Linked DNA regions of Homo sapiens: region 1 is linked to region 2. The links come from fine-mapping of genetic effects on gene expression. A gene starts in region 2. The other region holds a variant in brackets. All regions are shown on one strand. Distances are between the middles of the regions. Region 1 overlaps STON1-GTF2A1L (STON1-GTF2A1L readthrough). Region 2 holds the start of STON1 (stonin 1).

Evidence for each region.
Region 1: its variant is fine-mapped to the expression of STON1 in esophagus muscle (GTEx, PIP above 0.99). The same link has a PIP of 0.9 or more in aorta, caudate, cerebellar hemisphere, cerebellum, esophagus mucosa and gastroesophageal junction.

Annotation. Positions count from the first base shown.
Region 1 is chr2:48,592,968-48,598,348 of GRCh38, reverse strand. The region is part of intron 3 of STON1-GTF2A1L (STON1-GTF2A1L readthrough); the gene reads right to left. It overlaps STON1 (stonin 1), which reads right to left. Exons shown (of 4, transcript NM_006873.4): 4 at 1-3,121. The coding sequence ends at 3,047. Among named protein-coding and RNA genes, the nearest start is that of GTF2A1L, 22 kb to the left of the region's middle. The variant C/T (reference allele first, on the strand shown) is at 3,107.
Region 2 is chr2:48,526,989-48,532,369 of GRCh38, reverse strand. It overlaps STON1 (stonin 1), which reads right to left and starts at 2,216. Exons shown (of 4, transcript NM_006873.4): 1 at 2,154-2,216. It overlaps STON1-GTF2A1L (STON1-GTF2A1L readthrough), which reads right to left and starts at 2,445. Exons shown (of 11, transcript NM_001198593.2): 1 at 2,382-2,445. RefSeq lists a silencer at 1,885-2,084 and an enhancer at 1,676-2,223.

The DNA.
Region 1 (5,381 bases), 66 kb before region 2:
GACTTTATAAGAAAAGGGGCTGTATCACAAGCATAGCTCTGGAATGAAGGGAACTAACATCCTAGAACTGTCTAATATATACATCAGGTTGTAAAATTCCAGCCTTTATTTATGTGCTGGAAAGTATCTTTTTTACATATCTTTTTTTAGTGGATAAACTCTTGTGATTCCCACAGAAAAAGGAAATGTTCTTAAATTCAGATCTGCACAAATCATCTACCCATGAATTCATTTACACAGTTAATATGATCCTGTAACTGGAAAGGTGACCAGACTAGTCACAAACTGGTCAACTCCTTGGAAGTCTGCTCATTTGACTCCAAAATGGTCAAACTCACAATGGAGTGATCTAAGCAAAATGAATGCTAGAAAGGAATATTTCCTCCCTCATTCCTTTCCTTCCCCGCTTCCCTCCCCTAAAAGCAAGGGTTTTTTGAAGATCACTATTCCGGCAAGGGCAGTTCTACTTAATTTGAACCCTACCTGATTTTTCACCTAGAGTTCTGTAGTCACATCTGACCTTCTGCCAGTTCTGAGGTCAGAAGAATTGAATAAGCCTCCCCTCCCTACACAGAATGTTAATTTAACATTAAGTAATGAATATTTAAGGATCCTAATAGATGTGCGAATTAACAATTATGCTGTAACACCCTGCTGTTAATGCTATCAGCTTCTGCATTGCCACAGACAATCCATTTGGGCTTTAGTCCAGCTTTTGCTATTATATTGTCAAGACTGAATCTTGAGATGTCCTGAAGGCCCGGTGGCTTGTGAGTGAATAACCTGGGCAGGGAGGTACCCACAGATACTAGTCAACCTGTGAAGCATGAGGGGCAACTAAGTGAACCCTTTGCTGAATATATTTTGAGGTGTAAATAGTCATTAAGTTCATCCTAATCAGACTGTGAGTTCTTTGTGGGCAGGATGCCATAAAACACACTTAGAAAGGAATGGCAGTAATTAACCCACCTAACTTCACTGGGACTGTGGGCAGCATCAGTTTCGGCCGGCCTCCACATTCGTTCTGAGCAGACTGAAGTCACTGTAGAGTGCGCCCACACCAGATGATAAAGAAAGATGGTAGAATTTTTTTAATGACATACACACACAGATTTGCCCTACTCTACATCAACAGTGAGCCTCAAGCATATGATATTATAAGCAAGGCATCAAATGAAGTTAAAAAGAGCAATAGCGGCCGGGCATGGTGGCTCACGCATTTAATCCCAGAACTTTGGGAGGCCGAGGCTGGTGGATCACCTGAGGTCAGGAGTTCGAGACTAGCCCGGCCAACATGGGGAAACTCCGTCTGTAGTAAAAATACAAAAGAATTTTAGCCAGGCATGGTGGCTTGTGCCTGTAATCCCAGCTAGTTGGAGGCTGAGGCAGGAGAATCCCTTGAACCCAGGAGGCGGAGGTTGCAGTGAGCCAAGATGACACACTGCACTCCAGGCTGGGCAACAGAGTGAGACTCTGTCTCAAAAAAAGTAAAAAATAAAAACAGCAATAACAATTCCTTTCAACCAACCATCACCTATTGCATTCTTTGCCTTTACAGTAAAATAATGAAAAGCAATAAAATCTGCTGATTGATACAGACCATCATAAATGTTTGTCTTAATCTGTTTTTGAACAGATTTCAATGAATGTAATATAATATTAAATATTAAAAAAAACACATGAAATAAACTCTGTAGGCCAACACATAAATGTTGTTTGGAAGAACACTAAATCAGTTTTGACTCAAAACAAATCTAGCAAATAGAGAAAAATATCTCCTAATTATGTTTAAGACTCAACATAAATTGAAGGTATATTAATACCACATGGGGGAGTTTGTTTTTCAGACTAAAAACAATACCTGGAATATAGATTTCATAAATTTTAAAATTCTCACTTTTCACTGTAAATGCTGAAAGGAAATTATAAACAGAATTATAACTGCTAATGCTATTGACTTTTCATTAGAAACCAAACTATTATAGTCATTTACCTGACTCTGAAGAATAAAAATGTTGCCACTTAGAAATCTGGGTAAAATACCAAGTATCTTTCACTTTGCTCACCTTTTAATGAAAAATACTCTAAAATAAGCAGAATTAGCATAAAACAGCATGATAGCAGAACTAGTATAAAATAATCATAATGTGATTTAGACTTCTACTCAAGAGAGGCTTGTGTTCATTACAAATAATACTTTATCAAAATATGTCCTTAGAGTCTGTACTTTTGGAAAATAGTATTTATAAATTTTAAAAATTCATATTTAATATACACAAATATGTTAACTAGTGTCTAATACTCAGATTCCATTTTGAAAGGAATCCTGCCAAGTGAAAGGAAATATGTCTTAGTGATTTATACTAAAATATGTAGGACAACAGAAATAGCTTCTTTGCAGCACGCGCCAGAAAACAAACACATTTTGAAAATGACAATACAGTAGGAGAGAGACAGGTACCAAATATAGCCAATTATTATTTACCAACGGTAAGAGGACAGGTAAATAAGTAATTCAAAAGCACAGATACTTCCAGATCTACATTTTAGCCTGTGGTTTCAACATCATTCTACACCTAGCCACATTTCAGAGGCAAGAAAGAGGGAAAATTAACTATTTTGGTTTATGTCTCCTTTGATTCCCTTACCCTCTAGTACAGACACTAAGCAGCAAGAAGAGATGGGAAGAAATGAAGACGGCACCTCAGTAATCCAGAGAGCAAAACAGTCAGCCACTGAGTAATCAAAAATCATACTGGCTGCGGGGTCACACAACGAGTAACAGTGCCTTTGAGTTTCAATAGGAAGCAAAACATCACACGAATTATAGAAACATTTTAGATCGAACCCCTAGGACAAAAACACATGAAAAGCAAAAAATACAGATTGTTCGGTTTTAGGTCTAAACTTCTCTAAACACAGCCATCAGACCTGTCCTAAAACCGCTATTCAGAAGTCATTTCCACTCTACAGTAGCAGGACTTGGTGTGGTTTCGGTGAATTACATATTTGACAAGTGGGCTGTCATCATAAACTCTTGCTACTCCTACTGAGTTATGCAGTCACCAATTTTATCTGGGTCTTCTCCATCGATTTTAATCCACTT[C/T]TTTTCTATTTCAACCTGTTATGCAAAAGCAAAACACAGGCAGCATTAACAAATGCAACACAGCACTCACACCTCTTCAGTCCTATTTTATACATGTGGCACAGACTGCACAAACCTCACCCTTTGGACACAGACACAGCCCTCTACCCTCCTACAGTAGCTTCCAAGTGAGGCGCTCTGCTCTCCTTTTGAACAACAGAGCCCCTCAAATCCTCCCCGCCAGGGTCAAGTCTTCAAGAGCACCAAAACTGTCTTCTAAGTCAAACGTAGTTTTTATAAAATGTATACAGAATATGTATACTGAAAAAAAATTTACAGATCTGACTAGACATATGATCAATTATCCCTCTACCTGAATATATGGCTGTATCATGTATCTAGCCATTGGCCCCCTTAAGATTTATAATGCACCCAAAATTATCTAATTGAAACAAGCCATCTTACAAACTATTAGGTTGCTGCAAAACTAATGGCAAAAACCGTGATTACTTTTGCAGCAACCTAATAGTAAACCATCTGCTCTTCATCATTTTTGTCTCAGCTCAAATGTCACATCCTCCTGGAGGTCCTCCAGGACTACCCCTGATAAAGCCCTCCAGTCACTCTCTATCCCGTTACCCTATTTTATTACCTTCTTGGAATTTGTTATTAGTTGAAATCATATTTATTTATTTATTTATCTACTAACTATTTTTCGTTTACCCCCACTAGAAACTATGCTCCATGAGGACAGGGACTTTGTCTCTCTGTTCACACTGCTGTGTCCCTGCATGTGGAGCAGTATCTGGCAACAGATAATTACTAAATGGAAGAAAACATTTTGAAACTGCCACCAGGTGCACATCAACTAGTAAATGCTACTAAAGCAAGAGATACTTTGTAAAGTAATTTTTAATTGTCCACTAAAATTGCATGAACCTGGCATGCCCTGTGAATAGGAAAATAAGTATAAACACAGTCTCCATGCCACTTGACCCACATTTCAGTCACACATAATATATATATACCTAGTGTTATAGGTCAGGTTCCCCAAGAAATAAACTCTGAGATGGAGATCTGTGTGCAGAAAGTTTACTGGAGAGTGCCGTTGAGTTCAACATTCATGGGGGAGTGAGGCAGGAAATGAAGCTAAATGGGCAGAGAGAGAAGCTGGGATGCAATGTAGTCAGAATGAAGGCTTCTGTCCATGCCCTGGAGAGCTGAAGCTGGGCTGACCTACAGCGTTAGCCCAAGTTGATGCAAAGGGGCCTATACACCCCTGCATAGATTCCAGGAAGGAGGCATGACCTCAGGAAAGGCAGCTATCTTCAGCGGCGGCAATTCCCACCTGCTGGGGAAATACATCCTTCAGGTCTGAAGGGGCTGCACAGGACAGCACTACCTATCATTACTTTTATCAGTAGAAAAAGATAACTGGACCCAAACATAGACTTCTAAACAGATAGTCCAAAATAAAGAAAAATCCTGACTCACATTACTATAGTATAGGAAACCCAGTTGATATTAGCGATGTCATGTATAATATCACTATTTTTAATAGAAATAAATTAGTAGAAAATCAGAATGGCATTAATCTTTGCTGCAAGTCAAGCAACACATAGATTTTAAAATGCTATTTGAGAGGCACATGTTCTCAGGACCTCCTGAGGGCTGTGTAACAGGCAAAATTTAAATTTTTAAAAATAAAATAAATGCTATTAGAAATTATAAAATGTTGCTCATGTGAAAGACAGAAGGGAAACATACATTCTAAACTGAACCACCTGTCTGTAATGCACTATTTAATTTTTGTGATTTTTGAAATATTTTCTAGTTAAAAATACTTTTAGGCCAGGTGTGGTGGCTCACACCTCTAATCCCAGCACTTTGGGAGGCCGAGGCAGACAGATCACAAGGTCAGGAGTTCGAGACCAGCCTGGCCAACATGGTGAAACCCCATCTCTACTATAAACACAAAAAATTAGCCAGGCGTGGTGGCAGGCACCTGTAATCCCAGCTACTCGGGAGGCTGAGGCAGGAGAATTACTTGAACCTAGGAAGCGGAGGTTGCAGTGAGCCGAGACCATGCCACTGCACTCCAACCTGGGCAACAGAGCAAGACTCTGTCTCAAAATAAAGAAAACCTTTTAAACAAAATCAGCAAGATGCATCACCATTTCAAGATACTGTGGGAAATATGTGGCAGGAGACATCCATATATCTACTAAACTTGAGGATAAGAAGGGAAAACAAGTTTAGAAACAGATGTAAGTGTATGTCCTCCTTTAGTTCATCT
Region 2 (5,381 bases):
TTATTTATTTATTTATTTATTTAGACAGAGTCTTGCTGTGTCGCCCAGGATGGAGTGCAGTGGTGTAATCTCGGCTCACTGCAACCTCCGCCTCCCAGGTTCAAACGATTCTTCCGCCTCAACCTCCCAAGTAGCTGGGAATTACAGGTTCCCGCCACCTGGCCCAGCTAGCTTTTGTATTTTTAATAGAGACGGGGTTTCATCAGGTTGGCCAGGCTGGTCTCGAACTCCTGACCTCAAGTGATCTGCCCGCCCCGGCCTCCCAAAATGCTGGGATTATAGGCATGAACCCCGTGCCCTGCCTTAATGATGTTGTGCCCTGCCTTAATGATGTTTTGAGACCACAATAAAACCTAACTGATTCATACCAATGGGGAACTGTCAAACTGCATCAGTGGAGAGAAGTGAATTACATCCTTTTTAACATAAACTCTTTTATTTCCAGTAGAATTCAAATAAAATAAAATCTTTATTTCCAAATGGTTCAATACTTGGACCTGTTTTTTAAGGGGTTGTTCAGAATCTGATCTACTACATTTGTTACAACCACATTTATTGTTTGTATGGAAACAGGAATGGCTAAAGTTTTGAGAAGTGTGTTCTTCCTAAAAACGTAAAACATTCAACATCCCCCAGCAACCATGCTCACACAGTTCGCTCCTTGGTAGAGCTTTTTCTTCCCAGATCATGTGGAAGAAAACCCCAGCTCAGGCTGCTCCCGGCTGCTCTGGTTCTGAGTGAGTGTGCAGAGGTTTGCAATATCAGCCCAGGTCAAGCCCTGAAAAATCTCTCCAGACTCCAGACTTGATCTGTCCAGACCCATCCGAGAATTAACAGGCTCCCCATCGTGCCCACAGAAGCAAGACTGTCATGGAAACACTGATTCAACCATAATAACTACTGACAGAAAAACCACACAAATGAACTAAACAATTCTTCCACCCAATCAGAGTCCAGGGGAGTCCATAGCCTCAGGATTAAAATAAGTAGGGCTGTTTTTATTATGTGGTCCAGCTCGTTTGAGCCTCTCCCATTGCCTTGTTTTCACAGCTCCCTTTTATGAGAAAGAAAGTGGGGGTGGGGGAGTTGGGAGGGAGACTAGAGCTATGCAGACGGGAATGCCAGGCTGGGAATACCAACAAACAGTGTGCTGCATGTCAGGCAAATTAAAACTTCTAGCCTGGAGGAGGCTGTAATCGTGTTTGCGGTTAGTCTGAAAACAAGCTACACTGAACTTCTATCTCCCAGGAAAACAGTCGAGTGTGGACTGAAGTCAAAAATGAGTATTTTTAGCAAGCATTCTCTCTCTTCCGTTTATTTTCTTCCTTCTTCTGTCTTTAGATATTAGAAACGCTAATTACATGAAGTATCATTATTATTCGAAGAAAGCACAGTTAGAAGGGTTAAAAATAAAAAGATGCCAAACCAACAGAAGCAGTACAATCCTAAGGAGGAATATATTTTAATTTTTCCCTGTACCCACGAGGTTCAGTTTGTGGGTCCAAGGGACCCAACCCCAATACCCAGTGAATGGTCATACCTGCAGGAAATATTTGGGCCAGTGTGGTGGCCCCCGCGGCTGTGGCCCCGTGGCCTGGCTCCTTGCCTTCCAGGGCAGGAGGGGACTCCGGGCTGCAGGCACAGGCTAAGGTCCGAGCTGAGGTACCAGGGAGCGGGGAGGGACAACAGCCCAAATAACAGCAGTCAGAAGGAGGAGGGAGTCCGGGAGCGGGAGAGAGACACAGAGACCCCGAGGGAGGCGTGAGGGGCGCAGAGCTGGTGGCCCGGGTCCGAGAGGTCGAGGGGCCGCGCGCGGGTGAGAACGAGCCCCGGCCCCCGCCCTCGGAACTGAGTCGATATTCCTTTTTTTGCTGTTTGAGTTTTCTCTTTAGAGTCGGACCCCGGTCCCAGCAGCAGTCTCAGAACAGAGGGGAGCCGAGGAGTCCCTGCCGGGAGGCCATCCCTCTGCGGGCCCCAGGGCGCCCCTGGGGGCGGCCAGGGCGGGCGCGGGGAGATGGGGAGGCGCCGAGCGGCCCTGGAGATGCCCGCGTCCCGGGGCGCCCGCAAACTTTCCCAGACACGGCGGGAGGCCCCACCCTGGAGAGGGGGGGTCCCAGGCCTCCCGTCTCTGTCCCCTGGGGCTGGTCACTCACCGGCAGCGCGGTTGGGGCTCCGATTCTGGCCGCAGCCAGCCACACCAGGAGGCGGAGGAAGAGGAGGGGGAGGAGGAGGGGGAGGAGGAGGGGGAGGAAGACCCGGGGCCGCCGAGTGGAGGGCGGGGAGGGGCGGCCGCGGCGCAGTGACTCCTCCCGCTCCCGCCCCCGCCCCCGCCCCTCCTCCCCTGCTGAGCCTCCCTTCTCTCTTCACGCCTTCTTTCTCACCCCGAATCCCCCAAAGTTTTTCTGGTGTCCGACGCTCCGTTCTCTTCCCTCCAGCGCATCTTCTGTCCCCGAGTCTCCAGCCTCCCAGAGGAGGGGAGAGCGCTCCCTCCTGCAAAAGTCGGGGGGCGGGGGCGGTAAGTCTATGAGTTACCTTTCGATGCCCTCTTGAAGCAGATAGCTTGGACCCGTGGAAGGTCTGAAGCCACCCAGCACCCCCAGACCTTGTCCTCACCTCTGGGTGGGGATGATGGAGGGCCTTTGCGGTCGTGCTTTCTAAGTTGCTTCATGGAGTTTTGTTTTGTTTTGTACCCCCCGCCTCACCCCACCCCCACCCCCCACCCCCCACCTTGTAATTAGGAGAACTAAAGAATTATATTTGAAAGGTAAAGATGAAGCCCCACCTTCCTGGGCGAATCAATCATAGCAGGAGGAAGGACACAAGATAGTTTAGTGAGGGCCAAGCTGTGGGGGTGGGGAGGAGGTAAACGCGTCCAGATGCCTCCTCTTTGCTGCCTCAAGAGTGCATGGAGAGGGAGAAGGGGCGTTGTCCTCCCAGGAGAGGCTGCAGGGTGTCTCGTAGTCCCTATTCCATCGCCTGCTGGCAAATGACTCCAGGCAAGTCACTTGGCATCTCAGCCTCTTCCTCAAGGGGGGCTGCCTCACTGGGAGCCAGTCAGAATGAAGGCACCCTCCCCACCCCTTTACCCTGGAGAGACACCAAAACCCAGGACGAGAGACTGAGCTGAGTTTGAACAGGCTCAGAGGGGAGAGAAGAGGGCATTTTAGGCCCCATGGCATGGTGCTTTGGAGGTTGGCAAGACTGGAAGGCTTAGGGTAAGTGGGCAATGTTTAGATGGGAAGGTGGAGCTGGGCATGAAGCAGAATACAGGAAATCTCTGAAAGTTTTCAAGCGAAGGTGTAGAGTAGGCACTCAGTGAATCCTTGAGGATTCAAAATGGCAAATAAGAAATATTGGTTTAACAGTCCTGTAGGATGGACCACCTAGGAAGAAAGGGGTTGCATCCAAAGAGAGGGGTTAGGAGGCCCCGGTGAGCATCTCAACTTGAAGTACTATGCTGGAAGGTGGAAAGGCAATGAATTATTTTTTAATCGTAAATTTCCTTGAGGAGCTGGGCTAACTCATAGGCAGTGCACCCAGGGTTGGTGAAAATCAGTGGACACTTCTTTGTATTTGCACAGCAGTGTAATTCTTTTTTAAATGTTCTGTCAGGTGTAGCCTTGTTTTTGACCTTGGAGTTCGCTGGTGAAATGGAAATATAGTCAGTACCCTATTTGACCTCCAGCCAGTGTTAAGAACCTGCCCTCGGGGCTTTGAGGAAGGAAACTGACGTTCCAGGAGGGCACTCCTCGAGCGCCTGAAATCACACAGCCAGGATCTATTTAGGATACTTTTATTCTCAGATAAAACTACTAATTGTGCTTATGCTTAATATATCCTAAACACAGAAAAAGGCACTGGTTTCTCCTCAGCTTCTCATTTCCTCCAGCTACCTTCCAGTAATGGTTAAGAGTTGAGGAAGGGCAACTTGCCTAGGGAAGAGGAGAGCCTAGGGAATAGGAAGTCAACTGACTGGCTGGTTAACTTGTCAGAGATTGTTCCATGGAAACAGACAGGTACTGGACCCCTAAGTCAGGCTTCTGGTAAGGAGCTGAGAGAAGTGGAGCAAGAAGGACACAGGAAGCAGGAGGAGGAGGAACGGAAGAAAAAGAGAAGGGGCAACTCTTTGTTGTCCTCATGCTTTGACCGCAGGCATTTTGGGGTCCCCAAATTGAACCCCCAAATTGAACCTTTTTGGTCCTGTATCCAGCCCACCTTTCACCAGTGGGTCTTCCACAGAGGCCAGCTCATCTCAGAAACTGCCACAGCTAACTGGAGACAGGACTCATGCAGGAAGCAACGACACATTTGACAAACAGTAATCATCATTGCATTTACAGAGTTCTGTATGCACCTTTTAAACTTTGTCATCTTTGAAAGAAGCAGTATGGCCTTTATTAGTGGGTAGCCACCTGGTGAAAGAAATCTCTTTTGGAAACTCTGACACTTCTGCAAAGCAAGGATGCCCATAACTTTCTAAAGACTAATACAGTTGGTTGAAAACCATTTTGTCTTTTGCAAAGGACAGGCCTTCCCCCTCTGTGTGATTCAGCATTGCCCCAAAGGTTGCCAGTTTCATGAATGAAGATTTATTTCTTGCAACTCCACCATGTATTTCCAAAGGATCCTTTCTGGTAGTGTCCCTTTGTATCAAAATCTGGTGGTAAACAGCTTAGCCTGGCCTCAATAGCTAAGCCACCACAGCCGTTCATCACAGCTGTGAGCTCATTTTACTCCAGTTACTGTTCTTTCTCTTGCTTTACAATAAGTAGACCCTCAAACTATGTCATTCTCCTTTTTATTAGCAGATTTCTCTTTCCTGGCAGTTTTTTCATGGAAATATTTAGAACTTCCCAACTGTTTAACAAGAGATCCCCAAAGTATCTGTAGATATGACCTAATAGATTAGCTTGGAATTCCTCAAAACTCATGTCAGCTGAAGCTGTCAGGATCATTTAATATACATCCAAGGGGAGGGACACACTGAGAACTAAATGCTTCGTAGGAACATTCCTCTCTAAAAACTTGGCAACAGCAAATCTCTGTTTACATTATAACACTCATTCAAACTACAGCTTTTTGGCTGGGCACTGTGGCTCATGCCTGTAATCCCAGCACTTTGGGAGACTGAGACAGGCAGATCACCTGAGGTCAGGAGTTCAAGACCAGCCTGGTCAACATGGTGAAACCCCATCTCTACTAAAAATATGAAAATTAGCAGGGCGTGGTGGTGGGCGCCTGTAATACCAGCTACTCAGGAGGCTGAGGCAGGAGAATCACCTGAACTCAGGAGGCGGAGGTTGCAGTGAGCCAAGATAGCAACACTGCACTCCAGCTTGGGCAACAGAGCGAGACTCCATCTCAACAAATATTTATATTTT